3 separate regions of the Homo sapiens genome follow, and regions 1 and 2 are each linked to region 3. Evidence: fine-mapped expression QTL. A gene starts in region 3. Each other region holds a variant in brackets. All regions are shown on one strand. Distances are from middle to middle. Region 1 overlaps RRBP1 (ribosome binding protein 1). Region 2 overlaps RRBP1 (ribosome binding protein 1). Region 3 holds the start of RRBP1 (ribosome binding protein 1).

Evidence for each region. PIP is the estimated chance that this variant, and not a neighbour inherited with it, causes the effect.
Region 1: its variant is fine-mapped to the expression of RRBP1 in whole blood (TOPMed, PIP 0.99).
Region 2: its variant is fine-mapped to the expression of RRBP1 in whole blood (INTERVAL, PIP above 0.99).

What each region holds. Positions count from the first base shown.
Region 1 is chr20:17,614,076-17,624,364 of GRCh38, forward strand. It overlaps RRBP1 (ribosome binding protein 1), which reads right to left. Exons shown (of 25, transcript NM_001365613.2): 14 at 7,780-7,872; 15 at 7,615-7,698; 16 at 7,383-7,472; 17 at 6,640-6,732; 18 at 6,224-6,295; 19 at 5,558-5,653; 20 at 4,521-4,604; 21 at 2,657-2,764; 22 at 1,851-1,934; 23 at 1,356-1,454; 24 at 662-805; 25 at 1-145. The coding sequence ends at 107. Among named protein-coding and RNA genes, the nearest start is that of DSTN, 49 kb to the left of the region's middle. RefSeq lists enhancers at 1-562, 563-1,286. The variant C/A (reference allele first, on the strand shown) is at 5,844.
Region 2 is chr20:17,644,644-17,654,932 of GRCh38, forward strand. All of the region lies in intron 3 of RRBP1 (ribosome binding protein 1), which reads right to left. Among named protein-coding and RNA genes, the nearest start is that of RRBP1, 32 kb to the right of the region's middle. RefSeq lists enhancers at 3,583-3,672, 3,737-4,440 and silencers at 3,853-3,942, 4,592-4,721, 7,333-7,412. The variant A/G (reference allele first, on the strand shown) is at 4,151.
Region 3 is chr20:17,677,705-17,687,993 of GRCh38, forward strand. It overlaps RRBP1 (ribosome binding protein 1), which reads right to left and starts at 4,538. Exons shown (of 25, transcript NM_001365613.2): 1 at 4,324-4,538; 2 at 2,295-2,371. RefSeq lists enhancers at 1,832-3,031, 3,223-3,895, 5,149-5,208 and silencers at 3,469-3,778, 3,809-3,858, 3,889-4,218, 4,449-4,868.

The sequences.
Region 1 (10,289 bases), 64 kb before region 3:
GAAGTTGGGCCTGGATAACGCTGTGTAGGTTGGTTGGTTTATTTGTAAGGAATGTGTAAGGCATTTTGGTAAGTTGAACAGTAACTTCTTTTTCCAAAGAGGAAACTCAGACAGAGGTGCCCTCCTTTGAGCTGCTGCCGTCCTCCTGTGAACGAAGGCAGGTGGCGTGAGGGGGGCTGGGCCACGAGCCATGGCAGAACCACCTGCCCTCTACCCTGGGCCTTTAGTCCCTCCCTGGATTGACCCCCTCAAGCCACTCCAGTCCCTCAGAGAACAGGAGCCACAGACCCCTGGGGCTGGGGGACAGGGAGGACTTGGTGGGAGCTGAGGGGAAACCATCATCCTGCAGGGCAGGGGCTGGAGCACTGGCTAAGGGGCCCACACAGGTGCAAAGTGAGGACCTGGGCCAGCAGGGGGATCAGACACTCGCTTCCCAGCAAGGGAACCCCAGAAGGGTGGGTGGTGGGCCGGGTGGGCTGAAGCCCTCGTTAGGAAGTCTCTGTCCCCACTACCTCCGCCCAGCTCTGCCTCCCCTGGGGCTCCCAGCCCAGCGCTCCCAGCAGCTTGACGACTCCGCCCAGCTCTGCCTCTCCCGGTCCTGCCTCCCCGGGGCTCCCGGCAGCTCGACTCCTCCCGCCCTGCTTTGGCGCCAGGCACGCACTGCCTTTTCCAGCTGTTCCTGCAGCTTCTTCACCGTGTCCTTCTCCCTTGCCAGCTGCTCCTGGGTCGTCTTCAGAAGCTCCTGCAGTCTCGTGGCGGCGCGCCCCAGGTCACTTGTTAACTTCTTCTCTTTTTCTAGTCTCTCCTGATGGTCAGAAGGTTGACGGGCATCAGCCCTTGCACCGGCAGGAGGGCCACCCCAGCTATGCCCACAGGACCCTGACGCCAGGGGCTGGAGCCCTCTGGGGACACAAGGAAGGCAACTCCTGGTCACCCGGAGATAGGTGGTGACGACAGGGAGGAAACCGCCCATGCTGACCGTGAGGGCTGGGTCCTGTGCTCTCAGCACCACCAGAACTTCCTGGGGCAGGAGCAGTTTACTCCGCACTGTCCAAGGCAGCACAGGAGACACACCTGACTACTGAGCGCTGGACGTGTGGCTGAGGAACGCACTTCACGTTCTACATGCTTCACATTTCGACAGCCACCAGGACTAATGGCTGCCATGTGACCATGTGACACTGCAGGGCTAGGAGTCCCCACCCCAGCCCCGGGTAGTGACAAGGGGAACCAGTGCCAAGGGCAGGTCCCGGTGGGGTCGGCTCTCCCCTTCCTGGCCCCTTTCCGAGGCCAAGAGTGGCGCCAGCCCCAGAGCAGACCCTCCAGGTGTGACCCCCGCCCCAGCCCCTGCCTGCCTTCAGCTGTGAGGCCTCCTCTGTTTCTGAAGACTCTAGGGGGCCGGCTGTGCGGAGCTTCTCCAATTCTTCTTGTAACCGACATGCCGAGGTCTGAGCCTTGCCGGAGAGGGAAGTGAGGTCTGGGTGAGACGTCTTATAAACGGCTGTGCTGTCAAGACCCTACCGAGCACGCCTGGGGACCAGGGGGCCCCCCCAGCCTGATGGAGCAACAGCTCCATCCTGTAGCTGGAATGAGTGGGCCAGACCCACAAGTTCTGACCCAGCCCCAGGCCCTCAAGGCTCCTCAGGGATGCAGACCACCCACAGGGCTCCCAAGGTGCCTCCAGCCTGTGCTCCACCTGCCCGGGCCCCACCCACTGCTGCCCAGAAGGCCCAGGCCCAGCCCAGGTGCTGCTGGGCACAGCCGAGCGGGGCAGGGCTGACCCACTCATTCCCTGGAGACTCAGGGCCCAGGGGCTGATGGGGGCTGAGAGCCACCAGGCAGGGCCTGACCTCCTCAAACTCGGCCGTGAGCTTCTGCCGCTGTGTCTGCTCATCCTCCAGGATGGCTTCTGTCCACTCCAGCTGCGTCTTCAGCTGTGCAAACACCGCAAACATAACCCGGCAGCCCGGTGAGGAACCCTCCAGGGGCCCAGGGATCCAGCACAGGCACCGCTCTCTAGCTGCTTCTAGCTTCCCCTTTCCCTGCCCCAACGCTCCCCTCGTTGGGGAGAGGGCACCTCAGCCCCTGGTACAGACTTCGGTGTGGCTCAGGAGCAGCTGATGGGGCCTCTGCAACCTCAGGGGCCTTTAACGAGACTCACAGGACAAGAACGATGCCTCCGAGCCCTGGCCCCATGACAACCCCCTTAACAGCCACACCATGGCCACCCCAGGGACAGGCCCTGCCTCTTGGTGAGGACTCTTGGTGGCTATTGCCGGGCTCAAAACTCTGGAGAGCGAATATCCTGCTAGCGATGTCCCAGCCGGGGTTGCAGTGGGAGACAGTCCCCTTCGATGGCTGCAGACCCTGCCCAGAGCTGCTCCTGAGCCCTGTAGGTGCAGACCCCAAATCACGGACTCCCTCTTCGAGTCCCACCTCCCCCCAACTCCTCCAGCCTCTCCACCTGGCCACCTTTCTGTTCCATGCTCTGTGGCTTTCTCCGAACCTGGATGATCCAAATGGGGCAAAGCAGGGTGGGGTGGGGAAGCAGCGGAGGCTGGAGCAGCCAGTGCGGGGTTTAGTCCGAACGGAGGCAGCAGGGCCTGCACTCTTCTGGGATTAGTGATGTGTCTGGGGACCAGCTCACCGCCCTAACCTGAACGGGGTCCTGCTCGGCTGGGGGCGCCTCTGGGGAGGAAGCTGGGGCCCCAGCTATGTCACCATCCTCTACGTGGCTCTTCATTTCACTCAACTGCTGCCTGACCTGGAACAGGAAGGGGTGTGTTTGCAAATGCACAGCCAGTCGCACACCCACCATGCTCACTCCTGCAGGGACCCCCTCGGAGGACCGTAGCTGCTCTCAACAGCCAAAGTCCCTTCAGGGGACCTGGCTTGGTAACTGTGACCTATGTCTGGCCACCCCCGCCGCCAACCTGAGCCAAACCAAGGCCACCAAGCCTCTGGGCTAATGAGACCCAATGTGCTCTGCTCCAAGCCCAACCGGAGGGGAGCCCTCCCTGGGAGTGAGGTGACCCCTGATGGGCATGGCCCACAGAGCAAAGGAATCCGAATGGAACCGGGGGGTGGCCGCCACACTGTCTACACCCCCCGTTTCTCCTTCAAGGATGCAGTCCACTGCTCAGAGCCCTTTCCGGGGTCTAGAAAAGATTATGAGATAACATTCTTGCCTAACAAGGTCCCCCACCCCTACGCTCCATCACTGGGGTTAGGTGGCATATCTGGCTGCACCCAAACCACTGGGCCTGCAATTTGAAGGGCAGGTGTCACTCGAGAGGCTCAGGTAGAGGTTCCAATTGGAGACCCAGGTGGGGCCCTTGGCATAAGCTCCCCAGGGAACATGGGCGGTCTCTGACCCTGCGCTGAGGGGCCACCCCAGGTACGTGGGAACCCCAGACATTCTTCCCTCCCTCTGAACAGCCCCTCCCAATGCAAATAACGAACTGCACAGCTGGAAGACAACAGAAACTCCAGGGGGTTTTCTCTGCACATCCCCGGCCTGGGCCATGCCCCCGGGGCCTGTCACCCAGACTTCGCTCAGCCAAGGCTTCAGTGAGTGGCCCCTAGACACAGGAGGAGACCTGGCCTAGGCAGCACTGCCCTCTGGTGTTCTGGTCCGGGTAAGACCTGAATGACCAAGGGGGACCGAGGGTGTTGGGAGCGTGTGCCGGACTCACTGGCTGCTGCAGGGGGAATGCCAGCCCATTTTTATTTAAAATTTCCCAATTTCTCCCTGTTGACAACTAATTCAAGATTTAAAAAAACACCGCAGATCAAACAGAACATGTCTGCGGCCTCACAGGGTGCTGCTCACAACACCAGCCTTGGGGCGGTACCAGATCCGGTGAGGCTGGGTGGAGCCTGCCAAGGAGCTGGGACTTGGCATCAGACACCTGAGCTGAACACCAGGAGGGACTCAAGAGGCCACCTGCACAGGCAGAGCTCCAGTGGTCTGCCAAGGGGGCTGCTCTCTGCACCCGGCAGCTGGTATGGGGCCGGGCGTGGAGCAGGTCTTCCCTGCATGCCTGTGGCTTTGACTGAATTGATCTGAGCTGTCACTGAGGTGAGAAAACCCACAGAAGGCACGGGACTTGCTGAGAGCCCCAGGGCGATGGGTGGCCAGGCCAGGAGGAACCCCCAGGCTTCCTGGTCTTGTGATGCCAGGGACTGCAATATCCCTGACGCCCCCAGGTGACTACAATGGGCTCACAGGGAATGCAGACGCCCAGAGCTCTCACTACCTTGAACAGGGGACCAGGTAGCCAGGGGACGGGAGATGGAGTGGGAGCACCCTGGTCCCAACAGCCACAGGCCCAGCTCAGAGTTCTGGGCAAATGTGCAGGAAGGCCCCCAGAAGCCGGCCCCATGCTGCTCAACGGGTGACACTGTCCCTTCCCTAGGCTTTATCTTTGAGTGGACACAAACGCATGACTGGCAAATGCATCTCACACACGCAACGCCCCAGGTCACACTCCTGGCATGGGGACATGGAGGCCACCTACCAGGGCAAGCTCATCGCTCTGTTTCTGGGCTTCGCTCTTGGCGGCATCGAGCTGAGATTGAGATTCTAGGAGAAGTTGCCTCAGCTTGGGGAGAAAACAGAGGCGGGTGATGGGAAAAAAGGAGAGAAAAGGAGAAAACCAGTCCCCGTGAGTTAGCGCCGAAACATAAAACCTAACACATCCACTTAACCAAAACCCTGAGGAGGGTCACAGCATCGGGCCGGCACAGGGCTCGCCAGGCTTCCTACAGCTACGATTTCTTTTTTGAGGACTTAGGAAGAATGGTGTTCACTGCGTACCTCTTTCAGGCCTTCACAAATGTTTACTGATTATCTCTGGCAAAAAAGGGCCAAAAGTTGGAGATGATTTTTTTTTTCAGAGATGGTCTCAATCTGTCATCCACGCTGGTCTTGAACTCTTGGGCTCAGGCAATCCTCCTGCATCAGCCTCCTAAGCAGCTGGGAACGGAGGTGCCCACCAGTGTGCCTGGCTTTTTTTTTTTTTTTTGGTAGAGATGCGGTCTTGCTATGTTGCCCAGGCCGGTCTCAAATTTCTGGCCTCGAGCAATCCACCTCAGCCTTTCAAAGTGCTGGGATTACAGGCATGAGCCGCTGTGCCTGGCCCAAAAGTTTGAGATTAAACCAGAATTGGGATACTGGGCTTGTGCTTCTGCTTCTGAAGAGCAGAAAAAGTGTCAGATCTAAATCCACTCCCCACCAGATATGACATCAGCAAGCCAGGCAGAGAATCCCCTTGCGGAGGGATAACCTAGAACGTCAAACGCCTCCCTCGGGGCAGGGCTGCCTGGCTCTGCCCCTGTCCTGGCTGGGAGGCTGCCTTTTTGAAACCTGCCCTGAGAGACACCTCAGGCCTGACAGCCCAACGAGGGGCCTGTGAGGCTTCGGGCAAACGCCTGAGGACTCGGACTTCAAGGCTTATGTCACCGAGAGCTGCTCCCACAGGGCTGAGGAGAAGCAGCTCAGGGAGGACCGCAGATCTGCTGGGCAGGGGCTGCACTCCTTGGGGGGCAGACTCACCCCTGCCACCTCCTTGGCGTAGTTCTGGCACTCGGCGCTGGCGGCCGCCATGTGCTTTTCCAGCTCTGCCTCCAAATGCGACGTGTGCTCCCTCACCTGGACAGATGCACAGACACGCACACGCATGCGCCAGCAGCCTCTGCTCAAAGGGCACTCACCTCAGGGAGCAGGCTGGCCCTGGGATAGGTGAGGCCTCTCGGGAGATCCCTGAGGCCCACCAGCTACCAAGCAAACGAGAAACTAGTCCGCGGCAAGAGAACCCCTTACGGAAAGTGGCAGGCTGCAC[C/A]CGGGCACTCCTGGGGACTGACATGCTCTTAGATTTACTTGCAAAAGCAGGTACCAAGGGTACCTTCTCCAGGGCTCCCTGTGGCGTCTGAAGGGGGCAGTGGGGCCACCTTGACTGTGAAGGCCGTGGCAGAAGCCCTGTTCACCAGGGCTGGGCAGGTCTGCACAGGGCCCGTGGCTGGGTCTCAGGGTCCTCTGAGGTAGTCAATGTCTCTCATTAAGGAAAAACAGGATGGACAAGATCCCTTGGCTTGAGAGAGAATGCCTCTCTTAAGGCACACGGTCCATGAGGAAGAAATCAGTGAAGTGTCCTCTGCATTAACGTCACTTTCAAAGAGGCTCCCGGGACAAGAGAAAGAGTTCTCTGAGCAGAGCACATACCTGGTCCGAACTTTCAAGTTCTCCTTTTAGCTTCTCTACAATCTCTTCGAGATGCTTCACTGTGACCCGGGACTACAAAGCAAGGGGAAGGCTCCGTCAGACACGAGCACCTGGGGGTGTCTCCTTCCGAGGCCATGCTAGGACCCGAGCGGGACTGACCCAACTTAGGAAGCCCCGGGGGTGCCCACTCCGCCCAGCTGGGACGGTCACCCTGGCGCCATCTGGCAGTGTCTTCCTAGGCGGGGGCCTCCTGGAGGACGGACTGAGCTGTCATCCCGCAACTGTGCTTCATAGGGTGTCGTGGAAAAGCCCCACCGAGACACACGAGTCTCACAGGTGACAGAGACAATCCTGTCAACTCTCCCCTGGGCTTCATGTGCTCCACGGCGCCGGGAGGCAGGCAGGGCTGCATATACCTTCTGGAGCTCCTCCTCTGCGGCGCCCACCTTGGCCCTCCACACCTGCTCCTCCTCCTCCACGCTCTTCTGCAGGTCTCTGAGCATGCCCTCCTGGGGGGAAACCGAGGTGAGGCAGGGCCCTCTCCCTCCCGAGACCCGCACCACACAACCGCATCTTCCTGTCCCTGCAGCCCTGGTGACCTGCCGTGCTCCGCCTGCTGACTTCATGAGCGCCAGCGTTAGGTGGGGAGGGAAGGCAACCACTGTCCTGGGAGGGAGGTCCTCTGGCCAGTGGGCCAGTGTGGCTGCAGTGCCAGGCAAGGAAATGAGGTCTGTGACCTGCACAGGACCACTAGGATGCTTGTTACTGCCGGGGTTTGCCACCAGCACCAAGTGTGTCAATGGCCCAGGACGAGGAGCACAGGATGGGCTGGCCAGAGAGTGGCAGGGCTAGACCTGGCATTGCTCTTAGTCACAAACGGGGTTCAACCTGGCAGTCACCAGCTGCTTACCCCGTCCTTCCCCTTCCCCAGCTTAGAGACCGGCCCCGAACCTTCAACTTGGCCTTCTCTTCAGCTTAGAAACAATGACGACCTCAGAGGGTGCCATCCATTTACCATGCAGCCGAAGAACGGGGCCCAGAGTCACAAGGCCAGTGGGCTTTTCCAAAACACCAGGCCACCTCCTGCCCCATAGGCCCCGAAGCTCTCCTTCCCTGCAGCCTCCCAGGGATGCCCAGCTGACAGGTTCCCAATGCTCACCGTCTCCGCCAGGATGCTGCGGTACTGGTCACACTCGGCCTGCAGTGTGCTCTGCGTCTCCTCGGCCTCCCTCAACTTGGAGGCCAGGTCCTGAGAGAGGGAAGAACAGGTGTTTAGTTAGCCACACACAAAGGTTCTTCTCTTGGCTTCCCGTTGAAATGACTTGGGGCAGCCCCTCTTCCTGGGGACAGGGGAGCCCAACAGAGGAGCCTTGCCAGGCAGCCACACTTACCGAGGAGGGCTCCGCGGGAGCTGGCGGGTGCTTCAGCAGCGTGGGGCCTTTCTCTTTGAGATCCTGCAGCCACTCGGTGTAATTCTGCAATGAAACACATTCGGTGAGACCCGGGGACATTCCCTGAGAACTGTGAGGTCCCCGGGAACCACCCTCCCCTCCTACCTGTTGTGCCAAGACAGAGAGTTCTGGGAGCAGAGCCAGCAGGGCCTCCATGGTCTGCGCCTCAATCAGACAGAGCTGCTTCTCCGATTCCTCCTGGGGGGTGGGTGGGGAAGAGCGGAAGGTGTTCAGCTGTGGAGGTGTGGGGCACCTCCCCAGGTCTTTACTGATATGCCCGGGTCTCTGCCCCAGAAAGGGCACATCCTCAGCTCTTCAGGGAAGCGACAAGAATCAAAGGAGAAGATGAGGCTCCATGGGGCTGACTGTAAGCAGAGGGGTTACCCAGCCTGTATCTGGTCCATTTCAAACAGACTAAGCTCTGATGAAAGGAGCATACTGGGTCAGGCCAAGATGGCAGGTGCCAGCTCCCGGGACATCTCCCAGCAGGGACAGTCTCCACCAGCTCTCACTTCCCGAGCTCTCTGGGCATGTGTGCATGTGTGGGGGAATTTGGGGGGTCCGCAGTTGATGTGTGAGAGCCAGGGCAGGAAGAAGGGATGGGAGGACACTCATGGCCCCCAATGTTTTGGAATCTAGAGCTGTGATGGGGATGGGGGTGAAGGCAGGGAAGCAGTGCGTCTGCTGGCGGCACCACGGTTAGGGGCTAGTGGCAGCCAGGAAGGGGCAACCCAGAGAGGCTCATCTCCAGCCACCCTGGAGAGGGTGGATCAGCATTCCCCCTCTGCAGAGGGAGAAGCCCACTCAGAGGAGACAGGGACTTTGCACCCTGTGCCATGCTGGGTCGGACACCCCCTCAGTCCTCAACGAAGAGCCAGCGGCCCCCATTCAAAGCACAACAAAGATAAGGAAACAAAAGGAAACAAAGGGGGCCCAAGGGAATCATGAAGCAAAGCCTAGGACCACAGTGTCCCCCGGGAGAGAGCTGGGCTCTCCCACACCCCGAGGGGAAGGCTGCTGGGGTAACAGCCTGTGTCTGGCCCTGCCACCACCTGGACAGGCCTGGCCTAAGACCCAGGGAGGCCCCAGGAACTCCACCTGGATCAGAGCTGATGGAGTGTTAACTCCCCCAAGCAGAGTCCTGGAATGTGCATGAAGGATGCTGACCACCGGACACCCAGCCTGAGCGCAGCGCCCTCTGGCCTGACGCACACCTGAGAAGCGGGCCCTTCCTGGCTGGCCAAGTTATCCACAGGTAGGGCCCGTGACCCATGTGGACCCTTGACCTCACGACCACCACTGAGGCCTCTAGTTGTGAGTCAAGGCAAGCTGGAGACCCAGAGGCCACCTTCTATCTGGATGTGTGACCACAATCAAGTCAGGTGACATCTCTGGTCACAGCTTCATTTACCACATGGTAGCCAGACAGTCTCTGAGGTCACTGGGGGCTACAAGGCCAAGATTCTAGGAGTCTAACTATAGCTCTCACAGGGTGGCCTGAGGCCATCCTTCACCTCCTGCCCTAGCTAGTTGTCCTCATCTGATACAACCCTCAGGCTTCCTGGGAATCACCGCAAAGCTCCTGCCATTGGGGCAGATATTCCTGTGAGAGAGGCTGGGAGTGGAGGCCCTTTCATGAGGTAGGAAAACGTGTGTGACCTCAAAGTGTGGGCAGGGCCTTTAGTTGCAGCTGCTGCTGGCCATGTCCCCTGGCCAGAGCCTCCTCACTGGCTCCTGGACAGCCCAGCACCCCAAAAGCAACCCGTGGGCTCAGACACTGGGAGACACCTGCACACGCCCCACCTGGACAGCATGGAGCGCAGGGCCAACGCGGCCTCTGTTCCCCGAGTGCTCGCTGCAAACAATGTCCTCCCCTCTGTGACTTAAAGACTCCTCATGGGACTGGGCGTGGTGGTTCACCCCTGTAATCCCAACACTTTGGGAGGCCAAGGCAGGCAGATCACTTGAGGTCAGGAGTTGGAGACCAACCAAGCCAACATGGCAAAACCCCATCTGTACAAAACATGCAAAACTTAGCCGGGCGTGGTGGTGCACGCCTGTAATCCCAGCTACTTGAGAGGGTGAGGCAGGAGAATTGCTTGAACCCGGGAGGCAGGGGTTGGAGTGACCTGAGATCACGCCACTGCACTCCAGCCTGGGCGACAGAGCAAGACACCGTCTCAAAAAAAAAAAAAGTCTCCTCACAGAGCCCCCTGGGCCATGACTTCAGAGGCCCAAGCAGCAGGATTACCCGACAAAAGGACACACAACAGAAATAACACCAAAAAAGCTCATAAAGAGTGCAGCCTCGGGCTCACTGCCTCCAGTCCCACCCCAGCAGCTCTGTACCCTCAGCCAGAGAGACCAGCACGGAGAAGCCCATCAAGGGGGCACCCCCATCCCTCTCTTGGAAAGGAGCAAGTGAAGAAGGGAAGGACGGCAGGGAAGGAGGTGGGAGGGGGAGGTGGATGTAGAGCCGGGGTCTGGCGTGGACTCAGGAGCTCTGAGGCCAAGGCCACTCTGTGCGCACTTAGTGCACTGTGTGCGTCCTAGTGCACCTGTGCGTCTGTGTGTCCTAGTGCGTCTGTACGTCCTAGTGCCTCTGTGTCTGTCCT
Region 2 (10,289 bases), 33 kb before region 3:
TTCCCCCTCCTGACTCAGAAAAGCGTCCTGCGCCGTCCGATGTGCTGGGCACCAGCCATGTGTGGCTACTGGGCACCTGCAACGTGGCTGGCCTGACTCGAGATGTGCTATGAGTGGAAAGTACACGTGGAATTTAGAAGATTTGGTATGAAAAAAAAAGAATGTGAAGTATCTGTAATAATTTTATATATGGATTGTATGTTGAAATAACATTTTGGATAAACTGGGTCAAACAAAATGTATCGTTAACATTCAGTCCATTTGTTTCTTGCTGGCCTTTTTAAATGTGGCTGAGGACATTTACATCACATCCATGGCTCACACGTGTGTGGCTCACATTCTGTTTCTCCTGGACTGGCTGGCCTATTCCTTTCCAGAACCAGGGACCCCCAAAGTGCCCCCTGCTGAATTCCTGGCAGCCCCTGGTCCTACAGAGGTTCCAGAGTGACCCAAGAGCTCTGGCCTCTCTTGAACTCTCTCCTTAAAGACCACCCTTCCAGGCCCCACGGCCCCTACTGCACTGCTGGGTGGGGAAACATCTGGATAAGGCAGCTGGAGGGCACGCGCTCTAGGACGCCGCTTCCTGCACAGGGGCAGCATGGCCACATGCTCACCCGCCGCAGGCTCAGTCCACAGAGTGCTCCCGAGAGTGTTCTCGGAGCGGCATTCTCATAAATCTTTATTAAAACTTTCTAACGTAATTCCATTCTATTAGATATTTTAACAGAAAAATAAAAACTTGCAACACGCGAAACAAACGCAAAGCTGCGTACAGCAAAATGTTAACGCTCTCCTCTGCCACCTCTCATGGCCCCCCAGAAACTTCCACAGCCTTTGCCACACTCATACAAACACTACCTTTTATACTGTTTTTAGAGAGCTATAACTTTACAAATCATTTTTCATTAAATCTTTTAGGTAAAAACTCTGCTGTCTCAATTGTCCCCAAATCAAGGGCAGCACAACTGAAAGAAAAAAGGAAAGCCCTCAGAAGCAGAGGCAGGATTTCTGGGCCTCCAGATGAGTTGCATTTAAATAACGTACTAACGGGAGCCTAAGGCGTGCCCAGCACATCACTTAGGGCTCCAGCAAATACTCGAAGATACCAGTAATCTTCCGAATTGTGAAATCTTAACGCACTAAACTAAGTCTCTCAGACTCAACACCTAGTCTGTGAAATCACAGACTTCAAAAGGCCCAGGGTGCAGTGAATGCTGGAAAAGCTCAGCTCCCTGAGGGCTTGCTCCTGCGGCTAACGCTTTGCCCATCTTGGTGGGTATGAAATACCAGGAAGGGACAGGCCAGGAGGCCTGGGGAGTGACCAGGGAGCAGGAGACCCAAGAGTAGAGACGCAGGCCAGTGTCTCACTTTGATGGATAATCCAGACCTCTGTCTGGCAGGGGACACAGCAACACCCCAGGGGCCAGGCCCTGCAGGAATGGGACAGGTACTGTGACAAATAACCACACAGGCCTGGGCTCAGGGGGGTGGCCTCTCCTGAGCTGGGTGGTCCTGGGCACGGCACTTCACCTCCAGGTGATAGCTGCAATGGGGGAATCTGAGCCAGAACCCTCAAAGCCACAGGCCTGCCCAAGAGCCTGGAAACGAGATTTTTAAGTGCTATCTTCTCATCTTTACTGCTGACAGCTAACTCAATAAAAAACAAATAAATGAATGAAACCACTGTACAGATGAACAAACACATCCGTGGGCCACGTCCAGTCTGCAGGTCACCTCTGTCCTTGGGCAGTGGGGCACCAAGGTCAGAGCAAGGCCTCTGGGACCAGGTGGCCTGGAGTCGAATCCCAGCTCAGCTCCTTCCCACCTTTGTCCTTGGACAAGTGGCTTAACCTTCCTTTGCTTCTGTTTCCTTGCCTACAAAACGGGGATGATCATTGTTCCCCTCACAGCGTGGCTGAAAAGAGTAAGTTGCAACGTGCTTGGAACCATGCCTGGCGCAGGGTAACGCACAGCAAAATAAATCAGCATGGCCGGCCTTCAAGCAGCTCACAGCAGCTCAGATAACGCACCTCACACCCCAAATTTCAAAATGACTCTCCCTTCTGCGACCACACTGGGAGGCTCAGGCACCTAAAATTAAACTCATCTGGCAAAGAGGCACTTAGTGTTCTCTCTCACTGTCAACTGTGGCGTCCTTGGATGAGGCTTTTCTCTCTGTATAATTTCCAGGATCCCCCATGGCCAGGGCTCAGGCATAGAAGGAGGATCTCAGCCCTAAGTGGCCTCATGAGACTCAGCGGCCAGCCCCCCACATCAGCTGCTGGAGCACCCCTGCACTGTGCACACCTGGCTCTCTCAGTCCACGGGGAGGGTATCAGAACCACTCCAGGAACTGCCGCCTGAGCCCTGGCAGCAGCTGGTGGTTAATAGGAGGGGATTATCGCCTTGGCCCTGGGATGGGCCCCACAAAAGGCTCCGGCTCAGCTCCAGCTGCTGCTACAGGTGCCCAGCAGCCCTGATCAGGGCAGGCAGGGCCAGGTGGTCTCTAGACACAAAGTATGTACCACCTGCATACCCAGCAGTTCGTAAATTGCTGGGCCTGGAAAGTTAAGTTATAGGTTGGGCTGTGGCCAACAGAGGCAGAGGACACAGGGCCATAAGGCAGAAGAGTGACACAAGGGGGACCTGGAGAACAATTGTGGCAGCAATGCCGAGAAAGGCTTTAAGGCATTGGGCCAAGCATAGCTGGGTAAGGACACGGTGAGGGGCTTTGGGCCCTAGCGTGTCAGACTTGCACCCGAGGTTGGACTAGGTCCAAGTCTTCATAGGCCCTGGGAATCTGGATTTTATTCTGTAGGCAACAAGCGATGCCTAGGAAGGAGCGTTTGAATTTGAGAAAAAGATTTCAGGATGCCCAGGGGGATGCGGCTGGAAGCAGGCAGACCAGCTGGCCTGGACCCTGGTCCTAAGAGCCTATCCCCGCTGGGTCCTAAGAGCCCAGGACCAGGATCTGGGCCCGAGTATTCAGGAAGCTGAGCTGGTGGGAGAGAGGCCCAGGTGTCAACCCAGGGACTCTGGCAATGGAACCTGAAACAGCATGGACTTGAGGGCTTGGGGAAGAACTCCAGTGGCAAAAACTCTCATTTCCTAAGAGATTGTCCAGATCAGTTCTGAGGGTGCCTCCCTCAGACACACACATGTAGTCTGAATAGCTGCTGCCTCCGGGCCTGCACGGGGTGACTCCAGACAGTGCAGACCAAGGCACCCAGCATGGCTGCCCAAGCCAGATCGCAATCTTGGCGTGCCTTCCACGCCCTGTAGTCCCCAGTCACCCGACCCAAACTCAGGTCTGCTGTAAGAAGGTGAAGACCCTGGGGCCCCAGGAAAGGGCTCCCACATGCCTCCTGGAAGCCCAGCACCACGCAAGCAGTCATCAGCCTCTGCAGACCAAGATTCAGAGGCTGAGGACAAGCTCCCCATTCCTGCTGACCCAAAGCCAAGGGCATCTCTGTCTCTCTCAACCTGAGGAGCCGGCTCCCTTCAGGGTCCCACCCCGAGGTGGGACGCAAGACGCTCTCTAGGGAGGAGCTCCGGCCAACATCACTGCTGGCCTCTAACTGCTCGTTCTTGGACTGTGGCCGTGAAGGCTCCTCCTGAGCCTGTGGGGGAAGTGAGCTTTATGAGACCCTGGAGGAAATGAAGATCTACCAAATGCTCCTGGAGGCAAACTGCGACTCCTGCTCTCACTCATTGCTCATCTGCCCACAGCTGAGGCAGGCCCTGGGCAGTGCACAAACAGTGGACTCCAGGCCCAGCTCAGGCCACAGAGCCCGGCCTTGCCCAAGCGCTGCTCAGCGCTCCTGACAGGAAGCAGGCCAAGGAGGCGCAGCTGCACTTGACCCCAAATGCCACGAACGGTCACATCCGCAGCTTTAAGGGCAATGGAGCTCAGTACAAATAATGTCAAGAACAACCCAATTCAGGGCCTTTCAATCAGTCCTTTTCCTTTAGTTGGAGAAAAACGTAATCGGCTACAAACTTGGGGACTGGTATATTTAATGGTATCTAATGGAATTTAAAATATCCTATAGATTGAAGAACTGTTTTCCTCTTTAAAGTTTTGTTTTTTCCTCCAAATTTCAACAAAACCAATTTTATACCTGGAGTTAAAAAAAACCCACATCACAAT[A/G]TTTTTAAAAGAACGACAATTCCTGGAGGACCTCTGGGCAAGGCCCTTCCCAAGGCACACAGGCTGGCCCAAGGAGAATACAGTTTAAACAGCAATTAGGACTCTACCTAATGCCTGCAGAAAACGGCAGGGGATTTTTAATCCCAGGCTGTCTGACCACAGCCGTCTGGGGGCAGTGACCGGAGTCCCAGCCTCAACACGTTTTCAAGTGGCTGAAAAGAGATTTCTGGAAGAGTGTCATCTAGCAGCTTCTCACACTGATACTTGGCTCGCTTCCCTAGGGGATGTTTTTGTTCTTCTTTAAAAAAAGAAGAAGAAAAGAAAAAGTTGGGTTTGAAGAACTTCCACAGAAAGTGAATAAAGGGTCATAAGCCCCAGAGAGTTTTCTTCAGAGCTTCAGACCCTGAGAAACTGAGTTAGGTTCAAAAGAAAAAGTATCTGACTTGATCTCCGTGTACACCTCTCTGTGCAACTGCCGGCGAGAAGGGCACAGGGGCACCTGCCGGGCAGGGCGGGGGCCTCGGGAGGGGCTGCCCACACCGGCCGCTCTGCCATCTGCTGGTCATGTGCATGACTTCTGGGAAGTCTGAGCTTTGCTTTCTGCTTCTGTCAAACAGGTAAAAATTCAAATCCACCTTAGAGAATTGCACGAGGGATAAAGGCATGGAAACCAGCCTCCTAAACTGCACATCTGAACAAACACCTGGCTGGGGAGAGCAGTGGCGTCAGACCTGCTGTGCTAAGCAGCGCTGGGTTTGGAGCAAAGCAGGCTACACATGGGGAGGACAGGCGTGGGTGGGTGGGTGGGTGAGGAGCTGGGAGCAAGGGGTGTTCCCATCACGAAGTCAAATTGTTTAAGGGCCCTGCTACCCTAGACACCTTGAATACCGTTTCCTGGGGGCTTGACAACTCTTCCCCATACCCCCTGACCTGTGACCCCAGCCCCATTAGATTGCAGAACACGACTTGGGATTTTAGGTTACATTTCCTATTGTAGGGGTAGAATGGGGGCTCAGCGAGACTGCACACGACACAGAGCTCACAGGCCCCCTCCCACCACGGCACTGCCAGGCTCCAGAATGTGGGAACTGCCTTTAACTTCCCACCTTACCTCAGTTCATGAATGCCTCCCAGATGCCTGTGTGCTAGGGCTGGGACACGCACTGGCCTCCTTCTGGAGGCCTCAGAAGAGCTGGCACTACCTTTCCTCATTCCAGACCCCAAAAGGAGCAACGTGTTCCTTGCTGCTCCTCAGAGGACACAGGGCTGCCTCAAAACACCCAGAAGGATGAGAGTTCCATCAGCTTTGGTATAATGAGGGCCTGTTTATTTGACTTAGAGACACATAATGGAGTTGTTTCTTCTCCATAAAAAAAAAAAAGTTATAGAAAAACTGGAAAATGCAGAAGGGTGAAAGGAAGATACTAACATTTACCCATAATCCTACCTCCCAAAGGTGGCCTCTTTTTCCCACATGGACTTATCTGACAACGTGGCAAGAATGGGCCTCTGAAATGCCTGTTTCTGAGTGTTTGCCACCTCATGGAGGTTGGGTGGGTTCTCCTGGGCCATGACACAATGGTCTCTCTGGCCACAGAGTAAAACTGGCTTGCATCAGCAGGCTGGGGAAAGAGGGCCCCGCAGAAAGCAGGCCCACAGCCAAGACAGAAGTGCCATGTCCCCAGGGTTACCCACCCCCGTCCATTAGGCAGAAAGGTCACAGGTCCTTGGGTGAGCTCCAGACTCCCCAAGAGTGCAACAAGTACCCTGCATCCCCGCATCCCCTGAGTGACGTGCTAGCAGAGGTAATGAGGAAACACCTGTTTCCAACCAGCAGCAACAATGAGTGAAGCAAGCTCCAGTTAAAAGTACACTGTTCTGGAGCTCATGCTAACTGTGGGGTCTTCAGAATGTACATATGTACTTCCTCAGTCTACGCCCACACTGTAGGATCCAGACTTGATTCCAGGTGCTGGGTGGGACAGCTCTCCTGCCAGTGTAACACCCAGATGGTGATTAGTACAAGATCAGGGCAGCCCAGGTGGGAGGCAAACCAGCATAATCCTGCAAACAAAGACTCAATCTGAGGATAAAAATAGATTTTTTTAAAAACCAACACCACTGCATACACACACGTCTTGTGTTAGAAACTTGACTTTCCTAATAGACACTGTGCATAGGTGCTCAGTTAACTATCGGAGAACAAACCAGCTAAAGCCTGGACACGTGCGTCAGCTGACAGTACCCGGAACACGGGGAAGCTTCCATTCTGGGGAATTTCCACTTCTCGAGGATCCCATCAATTTCCTCCTCTCCAAATATTTAGTAAAGAATTTGTGCCTTTCATTTCCAAAGAAAGAGGCTTTCTCCTTATCCCACGTCTGGGTTTATAATGCTCCCTGCTCCCCAAACTTCCTGAAGTTAGAATCATTCCCAGAGTAGCACAGCAGCACCGTGTGAGGAGTGCTGAGTCAGAAAACAAATCTTGTGGGCCTCTCATCGTAAATTGTGAAACGTTTCTGGAAAGCAATGCAGCACTGTCTTCCTAAATTAAAAACGTACCCACCTTTTGACTTGACAATTACTTATCTAGGACTTTATTTTGTAGAGACACACAACAGTGTATGTACATCATTGCAGCATTAATTTTAGCTGCAAAATAGCTGCACACTACTTAAATGTCATTTAAATAAATTACAATACAGTCATGCTAGGGAATATTATGCAGCTGAATGTGGCAGTTTCGCAGGTGCAATACGGAAAGATGTCACCAACACACTGTTAAGCAGACAGCAGTGTGCACTGCAGCTCCCGTTTGTGGGTGCCCATGTGAAGAGCACAATGAATTTACCCCCCCGCCCCTCCACCCCCGGGAAGCGGATGGTGATTGGGATGGAGCAAAAAGACTTTCTATTTTCACCTTCCATGCCTCCATACTGTGAATTTTGTTTGCTGGAAACACATATTTATGTAATAATAAATTGTAAAAGGCAAGGATTAGGAAGGCAGGTGTTCTCTGTCAAATACAGCCATGGACAAGTGGTAAAAACCCGCTGCAGGGCCCCCATCTGCTCTTGGAGGAAAATCAGAGCAGAAGTTCTGGAAGAGCTCCAGCCTGGGTCTGCAAAAGCATGTCCTGGGCCTACCACTCCTGCCAGGTCTCCCTCTGGGGCACCTGTCAGCAGGGGGCCCTGCTGGACCAGCCAGGTAACAGGTAGGGCTAGGAAGACTGAAGAAGCACTTCAAGTCTCTGGTGGAGCCCAGCTCCAGTACTGGTTTTGCTGCTAATCTGTCCTGTGCTATGGGCCAGCCACAGCCTCTGTGCAACACCAACACAGGTCTGCACAGACCGGCTAGTGATCCAAGAGGCCACCTCCTTTCAGAAGGTCCTGTTTAGAGCACTGCTGTGCAAAACTTTCTGCTCTGACTGAGATGATCTGTCTCTGCACTGTGTAAAGGGAGCCACTAGCCACATGTGACTAGTAGGCACTTGGAATGTGGCTAGTGTGACTGAGGAATGGAATCTTTAATTTTATTTACTTCTGACTGATTTAGGTGATAATTTAAATGCTCCCATGTGACCAGTGCCTCCCATATGGGACAGCACAGCCCTAGGCCCTACACCTCCCCTGCCCAAGTCAAGGCCTCCTGGACTCATGGGAGGAGTTCCCGTCCTGGCCTGCTCCACACCGGTGATCTAGAACCCACTGCCAAGCACCTCCCAGATCCCCGCAGCACAGCCCTCATGCCACCTCACCCCTCCCACCCAACACACTCACACCCACAGGTCCCTGTGTTTCTAGATGCCCAGGGCCAGTCAGCCCACCCGGAGTTCTGCCTACAGTTGCCTCAGGTTGGGCACACATGACCCCCAGAGAAGCTGGAGTGGGCAGGCCCCAGACTGACAGGAAGCTCAGCCCCAGCAGAGGGGCAACGAGGCACAAGGCAGCCAGTGGGGGCCGCCGCAGCCTTTCCAACAAAGGGAGGAACCCACGGTCTAACGTGTCTCATCCGGGCTTGCTCACCAGGCAACATGGTCACAGCCGCCAATGTTAAGTGGAAATCCAAATAATTCTGGAACATGAAAACTCCACATATAAGACGTAGCAAGGGTGAAACCAATTCCACAAGCCACTGGTGAAAACCCATGCTGTGGACTCACAGATTTCTGCCTCATACCCTCGGGCACCACAGCTCATGGCTAACTGAAAACCAAGAAAATCATCCGAGGGCACAGAGACAAGGTGGGAAATCACTGCAAGTGATGAAGTGTGCCCGGAGCAGAGAAGGGCCTTTGCAAGGCAAAACGGCCAAGCATCCAGAGAGCGCCACCGACAACTGACTGCAGTGGTGGGAATTCTGCCAGATGCAGCTACATGCCCACCGTGCCCAGCGCGCCCTCGGGCTCTCCCCTGTGTTCGTGTTATTTGTGTGTGGGAAAAGCAGACTAACTGTGAGGAGAGGTGCACACTTCACTGAGCCCACCCAGGGCCTCTGTCCTTTACAGTCAGAGCTGCAAAGCAGCTGGGAGCTATGCAGACAGACCTTCTTGCACACGCCACCTGGCAGTGGCTTAGGGGTTGGGCCCCCCACCCATGCTGTTAGTAAGAAGATGGTAGCCACAAATGAATCAAGAAATGTCCCTGGAGCCCGTCAGCTGCAAAGAGCAGAAAATACGTGTGCTAAAGAATAAGCAGACTGTGACGGAGTCCAGATGAGACCAATACATACAGATCACACGCCAAGAACAGCCTGGCCCTGGCCAGGCGCGGTGGCTCACGCCTATAACCCCAGCACTTTGGGAGGCCAAGGCGGGTGGATCACCTGAGGTCAGGAGTTCAAGACCAGCTGCCAACATGGTGAAACCCCATCTCTACTAAAAATACAAAAATCAGCTGGGCGTGGTGGTGGGTGCCTGTAATCCCAGCTACTTGGGAGGCTGAGGCAGGAGAATTGCTTAAACCCAAGAGGCAGAGGTTGCAGTGAGCCGAGATCGTGCCATTACATGCCAGCCTGGGTGACAGAGCGAGACTCCATCTCAAAAAAAAAAAAAAAAAAGAACAGCCTCCTGGTCCCAAGGTGGACAGAAAGAGCCACACATACATGCCTCACAACCCCCAGCCACCAAAGACCAATGTTGATGGGGACATTAATATCAGATACCCACCAGCACAGACTAGAGAAAAGCACACTGCACAGTTAAACAGTAATGCACAAACGCATTTTTGTCTGTTTTGGTTTGATAATGGCCATGCAGGGTCTGACCACTGCACTAAAGGACACAACAAAAGGACAGGGCTCTCCACCCCAATCGCTACCCGCTCAGACTGGTGTGGGCCGTCCACGTAACATAGACTCGACCTCCTCACATCCCAGGGCCGGCACCCTCCCTTCACAGTCTCCCTGTAGGAGAGCCTTTGTCATTCCAGGACTCAAATGTCCCCTACATCCTGAGTGTGACCCCATGATGGAACTGGTGGCAGCAGGTGCTGAGTGTGAAGCATCTTAAGCCAGAGTCCTAAATGCTTCTTCTTGTACAGATGCTGCTCCCCCAGTGAGAAGATCTCTACCTGGGACCACGCAACTCCAGACACATTAAGGACTTACGGGTTTTCTGTGGATAAACTTGGAGGCTTACCAATATGCACTACTGATTCTGTGGAAAAGAAGTAGACTGAATACATTGCTTGTTAACTGGGATTTCAAATACCTTGAATTTCGGGCCTTACCACTCAATCACGTGTGTGTTTGCTAGTGACTCCCTTCCATGTTCATAAATGCCTCCTTTCATCTGTCCTGAGCTTTTGCTGCTTGAGCATCATGGAATCAGGGAGGGTCTCTTCACTGTGGCTGGAGCTCTGGACCCATCACCAAGTCCACACTGCCCTATCAACAATCCTGGGTGACTCTATAGCCTGTGCCATTATATAAACCACCCTCAGCCCCTAAGGTCTGTCCACTGTGGCTCTCGGGTCCTTCTCTGCACTTCACCCCCGAACTACTGAGATGAACCCACAGGCAGAGGCCTGCGGTGCTGAGCTATGTCCAGAGACAGCAAGCAGGAGCAGGAGTTCCAGCAGCCCCTGCCTTCCAGGGATCTTTCTCAGTTGTTTTAACATCTGGAATTAAGGAAGTATCA
Region 3 (10,289 bases):
GGCGCATGCCTGTAATCCCAGCTACTTGGGAGGCTGAGGCAGAAGAATCACTTGAACCCGGGAGGTAGAAGTTGCAGTAAACCAAGATCACGCCATTGGACTCCAGCCTGGGCAACAAGAGCGAAACTTTGTCTCAAAAAAAAAGAGAAAAAAGAAAAAGAAAAAAAAGTTATATGGAGAATAACAGAGCTGTGTAAATAGTCACTGGTGTAGGAAGCAATTTATGCCACCCAAGAACACTGGAACTCCAATACTTTGGAACTGAAAAGGTTTCGGGACTGGGCAGGTATTCTAGTCTTGCCAAAAAAATCTAAGTTAGAAATCACAAAATGTTCTTGATAAGTTAAAGTTGCTGCCCATTGTTGACAGGTGGAAGACACATGTTACTGAATGCACATAAAGGACACACACGTCTGGTTTTGGGGGTGTCTGGTTGTCTGCTTCAGGAGACTCGGCCAGAATTTGTCTGCCTAAGAAAAGTCTCCTAGGAGGCCCCTGAACTAATTTTCTATATGCTAAGTGAGAGTGCCTCCTTGCCTAGGCACTGTCACTTAAAATTAAATATTTACCTTCCCTTACAAGCCATCACTTTCTACCTAATATCAATTTATTTTCTGTCTTTGTTACAAGTCACCATTTTGATGCTGAGGGCATTGGGTAAAAAATCTCTCCAGGAAAGGGCCACTATCTGTGTGGCCCCCCTCCCACTCCTTTTTCTTGGAATGCAGTTTACAATGCACACAAAGAGGCGGGACTAATGCTTTCTCAGGGTGAGATCTTATCAGGTGAAGTGTATCAACTGCCACTAGTCAACTGGTTTTGACCTACAGAATGGGCAATTTCATGTGGTTCAACATATTACCACATGATCAAGAGGAACAGGGACATGAATGTTTACAGAATACCAGCTGCCTCTACATCAGCACTGTCTAGAACTTTCTGTGATGGTGGAAACCATCTACAGCCACGCTGACCAACTTATGACTACTGAGCACCTGAAATGTGGCTAATTTGACTCAGAAATTGAATTTTTAATTTTACTTAATTTGAATTGTTTTAAACTTAAATTGCTACTTGTGGCTACTGTATTGGACAACACAGTTCTAGACAGTAGCTTTTTCAGGCAAGAACTAGGTCTCACTTGCGGTGTTTGAAGGCCCACCACACAGGAGACCCTCGGTGAAAAAAATGAAATGAAAAATACCTTCAGCACTGCCAGATTTTCAAAATGCCTCCCCACCTTCCTGCCACTGAAGCTCTTAATTTTGATCTTCACGTTCTGTGTCCTCCCTTGGGTAATTATTGCCCCAGGAAGGTGGAGGTATATAGCCAGGAGGGAACATTTGGAAGGCCGGGCCCACATCGCCTAGCAACTGGGCAACAGGAACTGGCCTGACAACCTTCTGACCAGCTGGACCTCCACATTCTCATCCACTGAATGGGTGACAACCATTCCCACCCCCTAGAACAGGGTTATTTTAAGGCCTAAATGTAAACCACAGTTGTGGAATCTGATTCTAAAAAGTGAACCTTAAAAACCAAGTTGGGCTAAGCTTCATTTATCCAATGAGACAGCTGGGAATAGTTTAACAGGTATGGGGGCGCTGTCCGCCTGGTATAACCAATATTTATGATGTTATAGGCCAGGCCTTAACCACTGCAGGCCCAGCATGCACAGACGGACAGCACAGTCCCTGCCTTCATCATTCTGACTTGACCATTATTTTTGTTTCTCCTGAAACAAGATTTTAGCAAAGAAAAACTTGCTGTCTCAACAGAACTGTTGATCCTCTATGTGTCATTCATCTATTAGTTAAAATTCCCAGGGCTAAAAAGACAAGAAGAGTCTGGGGTCCCGACACTTTTAAAAGGTGTCCCTGCTACATAATAAATCAATACTCCAATTCAATCACTGGCATTCAACCATTTAAACTGAGTTTGCTGCTATGTAATTATTGCAGCCTGTTGAGTTAGGGCTCATTTCATTAAAGAGCATAATTGCTCAAATGTGACTTGATTTAAGATTTATTTAAAACTCTTCCATCACCAAAAAATACTCATATACCATGAACCACTGTAACTTCTTAATCTCTCTGTAAATGTTCAGAGGCAGATTCCTAAGTATGAAAGGTGAGAGTTGTTATAGTGCCTAGAGCTCTAAACCCTCTCCTAAACCCCAAGATCCCTTTCTGGTTTCCCCTCCCCCAACCTTAGCCTCCTCCAGGCCTCCACTGGCCCAAGATCCCTGCAAGCCGGCTTTGCGGTGCTCCATGTAAAAGGAAAACTTCACCTACTAGGAGGTCTGCCCCGGCCTTTGCTTCAACAGAGAGGGAAATGGCACCTCCAGGACCTCAGAACCGGAAGCTTCTTTCTGGAAGGGAAAGAGGTTGGCATATGATAGTGGGAGTGACCTTTGGCAAGTTCGTAAACGAGTCAAGACATCACACAGTAAGTGACATGCTGCAGGGTCACAGATTTCTCTAGGTGTCGGATTAACAGGAAGTTAAATCAAACAAGGAGTGTGAGGAGGGAGGCGGGGCAGTGGGAGAATGCCCCCCAGCTGCACAGGGCGGGGTAACATTCGCAGTTGTTCTTCCTGGGAGTGCCAGACAGACGTCCTGGGTCTCTGGGGACACCCAGTTCTGAAGAGGTATCTAATGTGAGATATGAGGCCCTACCAGGCCCATTTCTCCAAATTCCTGAAAATGCCATCCAGATGGCCCCTACCCTGAAGGTTCCAGCACGCAGAGTGAATAGCTGAGCAGTGACGTGGGAGGCTCCTCAGGTCCCTCAGAGTTTCATTTCCTTGGTGCTTCCCAGTCTCTCCTAACCTCTGACCTCTCAGAGTAATTGCCAAATTGCCTTCTGTTTGTACAAGGTCCCAGCACTTCCCGGCGTGGTTCCCGACCCTGTGAGTGGGTGGTGCTGTCTTCAGGCCACAGATAAGAAACTAGGATTCAGAGGGGCTATGGGACCTGCGAGTAGGCGGCCAGTACGTGGTCCGGGGTGTAGAACCCCGGCTGTGCAACTTCTGCAGCCCCGCGCCCGCCGCAGTGCCGGAGCCAGGCCCCACCTTCCTCCCGTGTCCAGCACCCCCCAACAAAAGCATCCCAACTGAACAGCCAACACTTGTGGCTCCTTCCTACAAGTGCTGGGTCTCCACAGCTTTCCTCGCAAATCGAAGCTAACAGGAGCCCCGATTTGCAGACCAGGAAATGGAGACCCCGAACGAAACAACTTGGTCGGGGTCACCCTCGCCAGCCGGGGCACTCTAGAGCTAAAACTCGCGACTTATCATTCGGAGAGGGGTCCCTGAAGCACTGCGGGCGCCCCACTGGAAGCGCAGACCCCGGCCTGCCTCCCCTAATCAGGGCGCAGCGGGAGAGCCGGCCGGGCCGGGGCGGGCACCAGGCCGGGTGCCAGCGCGCTTGGCCGGCCCGGAGGTGTCCGCTTCCGCCCGGGGCTGGCACCGCCGGCCCATTCATCGTGGCCGCGGGCGGGGCGGGCCGGGCCCCGGGCGCCCTCGTCCCCCCGCCGGGAGCCCTCGAGCCAGGCTCCGCGCAGCCCAGCCGGGGAAACGGTGGCCCCGGCCCCGCCGCCAGGGGGAGCAGGGAGCCGCCTCCCGCACTCCGGGAAGTTGCCACCGCGGCCGCCCGGCGTCCGTGCCATGGACAGACCCGGTCCCTGCGCCGCGAGCCCTGCGGCCCCGGCCCGCCCCGTCGGGGGCCGTCCCAGCCCCGCGAAGCGCCAGCGGGCCGCGGCCCGGGACCGGCGCGCTCGGCCCGTGGGCCCCCATTCAATCCCGCCCTCCTCCCCTCGGCCGGCCTCCGCCGCCTTCCGCCCGCACCCCACCCCTCCGGCCCGGACTCCAGCCCGGCAACGTCATCCGGCGGCTTCCCGAAACTTAACCCCTTCCTCCGCCAGCTGTGCGCCGCCCCGCCCCGCCCCGCCGCCAACTTTCTTCGCCCAACTTCGGAGCGCGCTGGCCGGCCCGACGGCCCTGCCGGGAGGGAGGGAGGCAGGGAGCGGTCGCCACGTCGCGCCCGTCTGCCGCCGCAGCTCCCCGGACGGCGAGGGCCGCGGGGTCCACACCACGGGGCGCGCCCTGCCTACGCCCCGGTACGGCGCTTGCCCGGCACCCCCGCCCCGAGTCCGACCCCGACCCCGATGGTGCACGGCCGCGGCGGCAGGCGGCGGGCGGCGGGCGGGCCGGGGGAGGGGCCGCCGAGGAGACGTGTCACTCGCGGCGCAGCGCGGCCGGCCCCGGCCCCCCGACGGCCCGGCCCGCGCGCGGCCGCTGCAGGGCCCGGCCAAGTTTCTTACCTGCAGCCAGAGACGCGAGAGGGAAAGCGAGAGGGCAGGAGCCGCCGCCTTCGCAGCCGCCGCGGAGCCGGGAGAGAGGAGCCGGCCAAGCCTCCGCCAAGAAACCGCCCCCGAGCAGCTGTAGACGCTGCGACCCTGACGCCGCCCGCCCCGTCTGCCGTCCGCTCCGGCCGCTCGCTGGCTGCGTGCGCGCGTGTGGAGTCGTGGCACTTTCTGCCTCAGAGCTGGCGAACGGCCCCCTCCGCCGGGATCGCCGCCTCCTGCCTTCCCCACCCGGGCCAGCCATTCATCGAGCCGCCTCTTCCCATTGGTCCGCACCCCGCCACTCTGCCGGTCGCTGGCCAGTCAGGACGCGGGTGGCCGAGCCGCGGCGGCGGCCATTGGGCAGAGAGGAGGGTCTCCACCTCGGCCAATGGGAGAGGGGAGGAGCTGCGGGGAGGTGAAGGGGGCAGGGCTGGGGAGAGGCGGGGCCGAGCGGCGCGGCGCTCGGCCGTGCGCGGGGCGGGGCGGAGCAGGAACGCCCCGCCCACCGAGGGGGGGGTCTCCGGCCAGCTCCGCCCACTCTGGGCCCGCGGCGCTCCCAGCAGTCTCTGACTAGGATCCGGCTCTGCCTAGGCGGGAAGCAGAAGGTTCGGGTCCCGGCGACCCCGGGCCTGCGCCTCTGGATACCGCTGGGCTGACATGGCGGTGGCTGAACAGGGTTGCGCAACCGCGAACAGCCAAGGAAGCTGCTTTATTTAAACCCAACTAACTTCCCCCGAAGCAGCGCCCCCTCGGGCCGCCGGGTATGAGGACAAGCTCTGCTGGGGGTCAGCCCAGGGAGAGCAAGTTCTTATCATCAAAGAGATTGCAATCAGCACCAGAAGGAATTTCCTTCAGTAAATGGAGGAATTGGGGTGGAAGAGCCAGAAGGTGCACGAGGAATTGAAGCGGATGTCATCGCCCTCGTTGTTAGGGAGGGTACAACTGAGGCACGGTCTATTTAAGATACTCAACCAAATCACAGCCGGCAGAGCAATAATTACAATCCACTCTGTGGCGTTTTATTCCATGCGTTGGGGAAGGTGAGAGGTTCTAACCTAAGAAAACTCATCCGTGTCCCACAAAACGGAGCAACTGGTACTTCCTCATTCCCTGACTTTCTCCCCAATATCAGCCAACACTCAGTCTTCATAATTAGTCAAGTCTTTAAATTAAAATAATTTTAGGCTTGATTTTTAACCATTATGTCAGCGTCTCTTAAAGCCAACCCTTTGAACTTGAGCCAAAGCCAGCTTCTTTGGAATTTTGGATTCTGAGCGACCAAAGGCTGCCTAGACTGCCCCCCATCACTTCCCTAGCTCCTGTTGCTGCAGAATCCCGTGCCTAACATCTATTTCTTGGACAATTTTCAATCTTCCCTGTCCCCATTTGTCACTAGTACTGTACTAGCTGTTGTTAGAAAGATGTGAAAAATACAAGCCTTCATGGGGAATAAAGAGCGATTGGGTTGAAATTAAACTGTTCATTCCTATTTTTAATCTTGGCGGTTCCTTAGCCCATTAATGATTAATCAGCAGGAATTAACCTGGATTAACTCTGGAACACTCAGTCATTTTCCAGCAGTGAGACCCGGCTTCAAATGAAAGTCAAGAATCCCAGCTTCTGGCTGGCAATTGCTACCAATGAGTCCTACTTGACCAGGGCTGGGCCATCTAACCTTTCTGAACATGGGTATACTCCTTTAGGACAATCACTCCTTCCTCTGGGTTTCAGGGAGGAAATTCATTCGTTCATTCATTCATTCATTCATTCACCGGTGTTTGTGGAGTGCCCGGTATACAGTGCTAAGCTGGGCAAGCAGCCTAGAATGACACATAGGTCCAGTGAAGACCCAGCTGCCCTCAAGGGCCTGTCCAGGGACAGGGACCTCCTTTATCCTGTTCACTGTTTATCTTTTTCCGGAAGCAGATCCTGGCAGTAGGGTTTGTTCAATCATTCATTTGGGGGATAATCATAAGAAACATTGGTGGAGAAGTGGGATGAGCAGGAGCCAATAAGGGGACCAACATCAAGCCTGTGACTGGTGTGGGCACACAGGGCTCGGCGTCTCTGGGGATGCTGTGAAACTGTAGAACACACCCCAGAGACGTCCCAGCTGAGGGGTGAGGACCTGGTTATTTATCCAGCCACTCCCAGTCCTCATTGGTTAACAGCTTCTTCTGGGGGGACTTTAACCCCCGCCCCCATCAAGCTGGAGAAAGCCTTGCAGCAAGAAGCCCTTGGCAGAATGGTGAGTGCCTGGAGGCATGTCGGGGGCCACAGCAGTGTCTCCCACACTGTGAACCATAGTCCGACACAGCACCTGCACAGAATAGAGGCTTGTGAATATACGTGTTCTGTAAATATTGTCCCATGAGCGATAACATTACAAAGTCCTTAGGAGTGAGGAGTGTTTACAGAAAAGGGGCTCCCTGTTTGTTCCCTTACATAACTTAACATTTGATTTGGCCTCAACACAACATTTGTTTCGGGATGGAAGAGCAGCCCTGTCTGAGCCTTTGCATTTCCTCTGTCCTTGCCCCTCATCTGCCAACAGCCAGCCCCAATGTGCTGTGAAGACTTCCAGCCTCATCATCCTCATGCCCTTTGGGCAAAGAAATCAGTCCCGCTGCACCAGGCTCTGTCAGGGCAGATCTGCACACCCTCAGGGTGGCCCGACTTTGACAGCCACTGCTGTGCCTGTGGACACCCATCTTTAACCCCCTGCAGCCTCGTCAGCTCTCCCAAGGCGTATCTGGGAAAAACCAGATCCATCCCTAGGACTAGATGGACAAGGGTTGCCTGTGGTGGGAGTGAGAGGCATCCCCCCAGGCTCAAGTCTTCTGCTAAATCATGCAGCCCTCCAGCAGCACGAGAAAGCCCATCCCACAGTCCAGCCTCCAGGCTGGGGCTCTCAGATGGGAACAGGTCATTTCAACACAAAGTCAGCAGTCTGGGAGCCCCCAGCCGGGGGAGTTACCCCACCCTGAGGGGAGCAGAGGCTGACAGCAGAGGTGTGAAGAAGTGGGAGGTAGCCAGGCCAAAAAGGGCACACTGGCGAGGAATAGCATGGGCAAAGTAAGGCATGATGTTAGCCAGGTGTGGTGGTGTGCCCATGCAGCTCCAGCTAGCCCCAGGACTGCTTGAGCCCAAGAGTTCCAGGTTGGAAGAAAGAAGAAGAAGAAGAAGAAGGAGAAGGAGAAGGAGAAGGGGAAGGGGAAGGGGAAGGGGAAGAAGAAGAAGACAGAGAAAGAGAAGGAGGAGAGGGGGAGGTGGAGGGAGAGGATGATCTGAGATCACATCATCTCAGTTTATCTGTTGAACAACTCAGTTGTTGGCAAAGCCTGAAGGGCGAGGGAGAGGCTGGGAAGAGCTGGTTCTACACAGGTGATCATAAGGGAAACAGGGAACTTCCCTGGGGTGGTGCAGATGTTTCATATCTTGATTATAGTGATGGCTGTGGTAAAACTCATAGGATTGTACACTCTTAAAAAGAGTACATTTGGCTTGGAAGCAAATTATGCTTCAATCAACCTGACTCAAAAAAAGGATGTATTTGGTTTTAGTTGTGTATTAAAAACAAAGCATTATTATTAGAAAAAAATTAAACATACAAGAATAATTACCTAATATGGTCCATTAACTCATGACAATAAATTGCAAATATTATCCGAAAGACTAGACAGGAAGATGGGAATATATTATATCTCACAGTTTAAAAAGAGATTTTGCTTTGTCAAACAACTATGAAAGGATGATAAATGACAAGTACAATAAAATATCATGTGAAAATAAAAGCCACTGTGATAATAGAGAACATGTTTAGGTTTCTTGTGCCAGGTACCATTTGAGACACGCTACAAATACGTAAAGTTATTTAACCCTCAGTACAACCCTATAAGGGAGGTAGAGTTATTATTTCCATTTTAGAGATGAGGAAACCGAGGCACAGAGAGAGCAAGGAACCTGCCCATGTCACAGGGCTCGTCGGAGGAGTTACATTGGTCCCCAAGGCTCATGGCAATAACTCTTGCATTCAGCGCCAGGTCGTGGAAGGTGTGCTGTGCCTATAGAAGGGGCAAGATTTGAGCCTAATCCTTTGAGAGTAGCAACTCAAGGAAGGGTTTGTGATTGATGACAGCTGTGATGACTCCTTTGACGTTCTATATTTTGGGTGGATGCTAGGTTTGGGGCCCACAGGGTTATAAGACCCACAATAGCTCAGGTGAGAGGTGACAAGGGCTGGAATGGGGCAGTGGCAGGGGTAGGAGGTGCAAGGTCCTTCAGGAGGGGTATTAGGACATGAAGTAGTAGCAAGTGAGGCTTAGAGACCAGCAGGAGTGAAGGAGAGAGGGGTTACCCATGAGCCCTGTTTCTGGCCTGAGTGATAGGGAGCATGGTGGTGTCACTGCTGGGGCAAGGCACACAAAAGAATGAACAGATTGGGGACAGAAGCTGGGGGAAATGTTGTATTGTATTTTGACATGTTGGATTTCAGGAGCCTAAGGCAAGTCCAGGTGGAGACAATGTTTCCGTAGGTCTGAGGCTCAGGGGTTGTTGTCAGGGTCAGTGATGCAATTAGGAAACCTAAGCATACCCTTGGAGGTTCAGACCCAAGGACAGCAATGACTATAACCAGTGGATAGGGTGGGAGTTGCATGTGGATGGGAACAGGAGAAAATGCTTGAGTCCTGAACAGAGAAAGGAAAAAACCCACAAAAGAGTATGTATCAATCAGCTTTTGCTATGTAACAAACCACTCCCAAACTCAGTGGCTTAAAACAAGTATGGTTTCTTATCAGAGCTCACACATCTGTGGGTCAGCTGAGGCTTGGCTGATCTTGGTTGGCTCACTCATAGGTCTCTGGGTGGCCTGAGAGCTCACCTCCAGCCTGGGCTTGGCTGGGGCACCTTACAAGCTCTGCTGCACCTGGCTCACCCCCTCTTCCTGTGATCAGCAAGCTATAAGGGGCATTCCCTTCTCACGGTGATGGTTGAAGGAAAAGAAAATAAGCAGAAATACATATACAAGGTGTATTGGATAGGTGAGCCCAGATTCAAGGGGCGGGGAAATACAGGGAAGGGTAAAGCAATGGCACCAGTGATGCAATCAACTACTGAGTCCAAGAAGGAGAGATGGAAAAGGTAAATCAGGTGAGGATGGCCTCAGCAAGGGAAGAGAGTTTCAAGAATTGGGGATGGTAAGCACTGTTAAATGTAGCCTAAAAATCCAGCAAGATGAAGACCGGGGCACATGGCAACTCAGGAGTCACCAGGGACCTTGGGGAAACAGCTTTAGAGGAGGGGTATTTGGTAAGGACACCACCAGATCGTGGAGGGCTAAGAAATGAATGGGAGTGGAGAAGGTAGAAGGAATGTACATCCATTCATCCGACAGATGAATCCAGCTGAGGACCCACTAAGTGTCAGTCACTGTTCTAGGTGCTGGGGAGAGAGCCACGAACAAAGGAAGGGTCTTCTCTCACGGAGCTCACATTCTAGTGGGAAGAGAGATAGTAGACAAAGCAACCAATAAATAAGTAAGAAGAATTGAAGTGGTGCAATGGGCTACAAGGAAATGAGAATGGGCTCAGGTGATGGAGAGGGATGGGGATTTGGAGAGGGGGAGCGCAGTGGATGTGAAGAAGATGGACAGAGAAAGCCTCTCTGAGGAGGTGATGGTTGACCTGAGACTTAAATGACGAAAAGAAGCTGATCTTGTCTTGGGAAAAGGAAGGGTAAGTGCAAAAATCCTGGGTCAGGGAGGATCTTCGCAGCTGGTTCAGGGAACAGAAAGAAGGTTGTGTGGCTGGAGCTCATGGGCAAATGGAAGGGAGAGAAAGGAAGGGGGTCTGCAGGCAGGAAGGTCCCAGACCACGGAGGCCTGAGGATACCATGGGAAGCTGAGGTTGGGTGGGAGATTTAAGCAGAAGAATGATGCAATC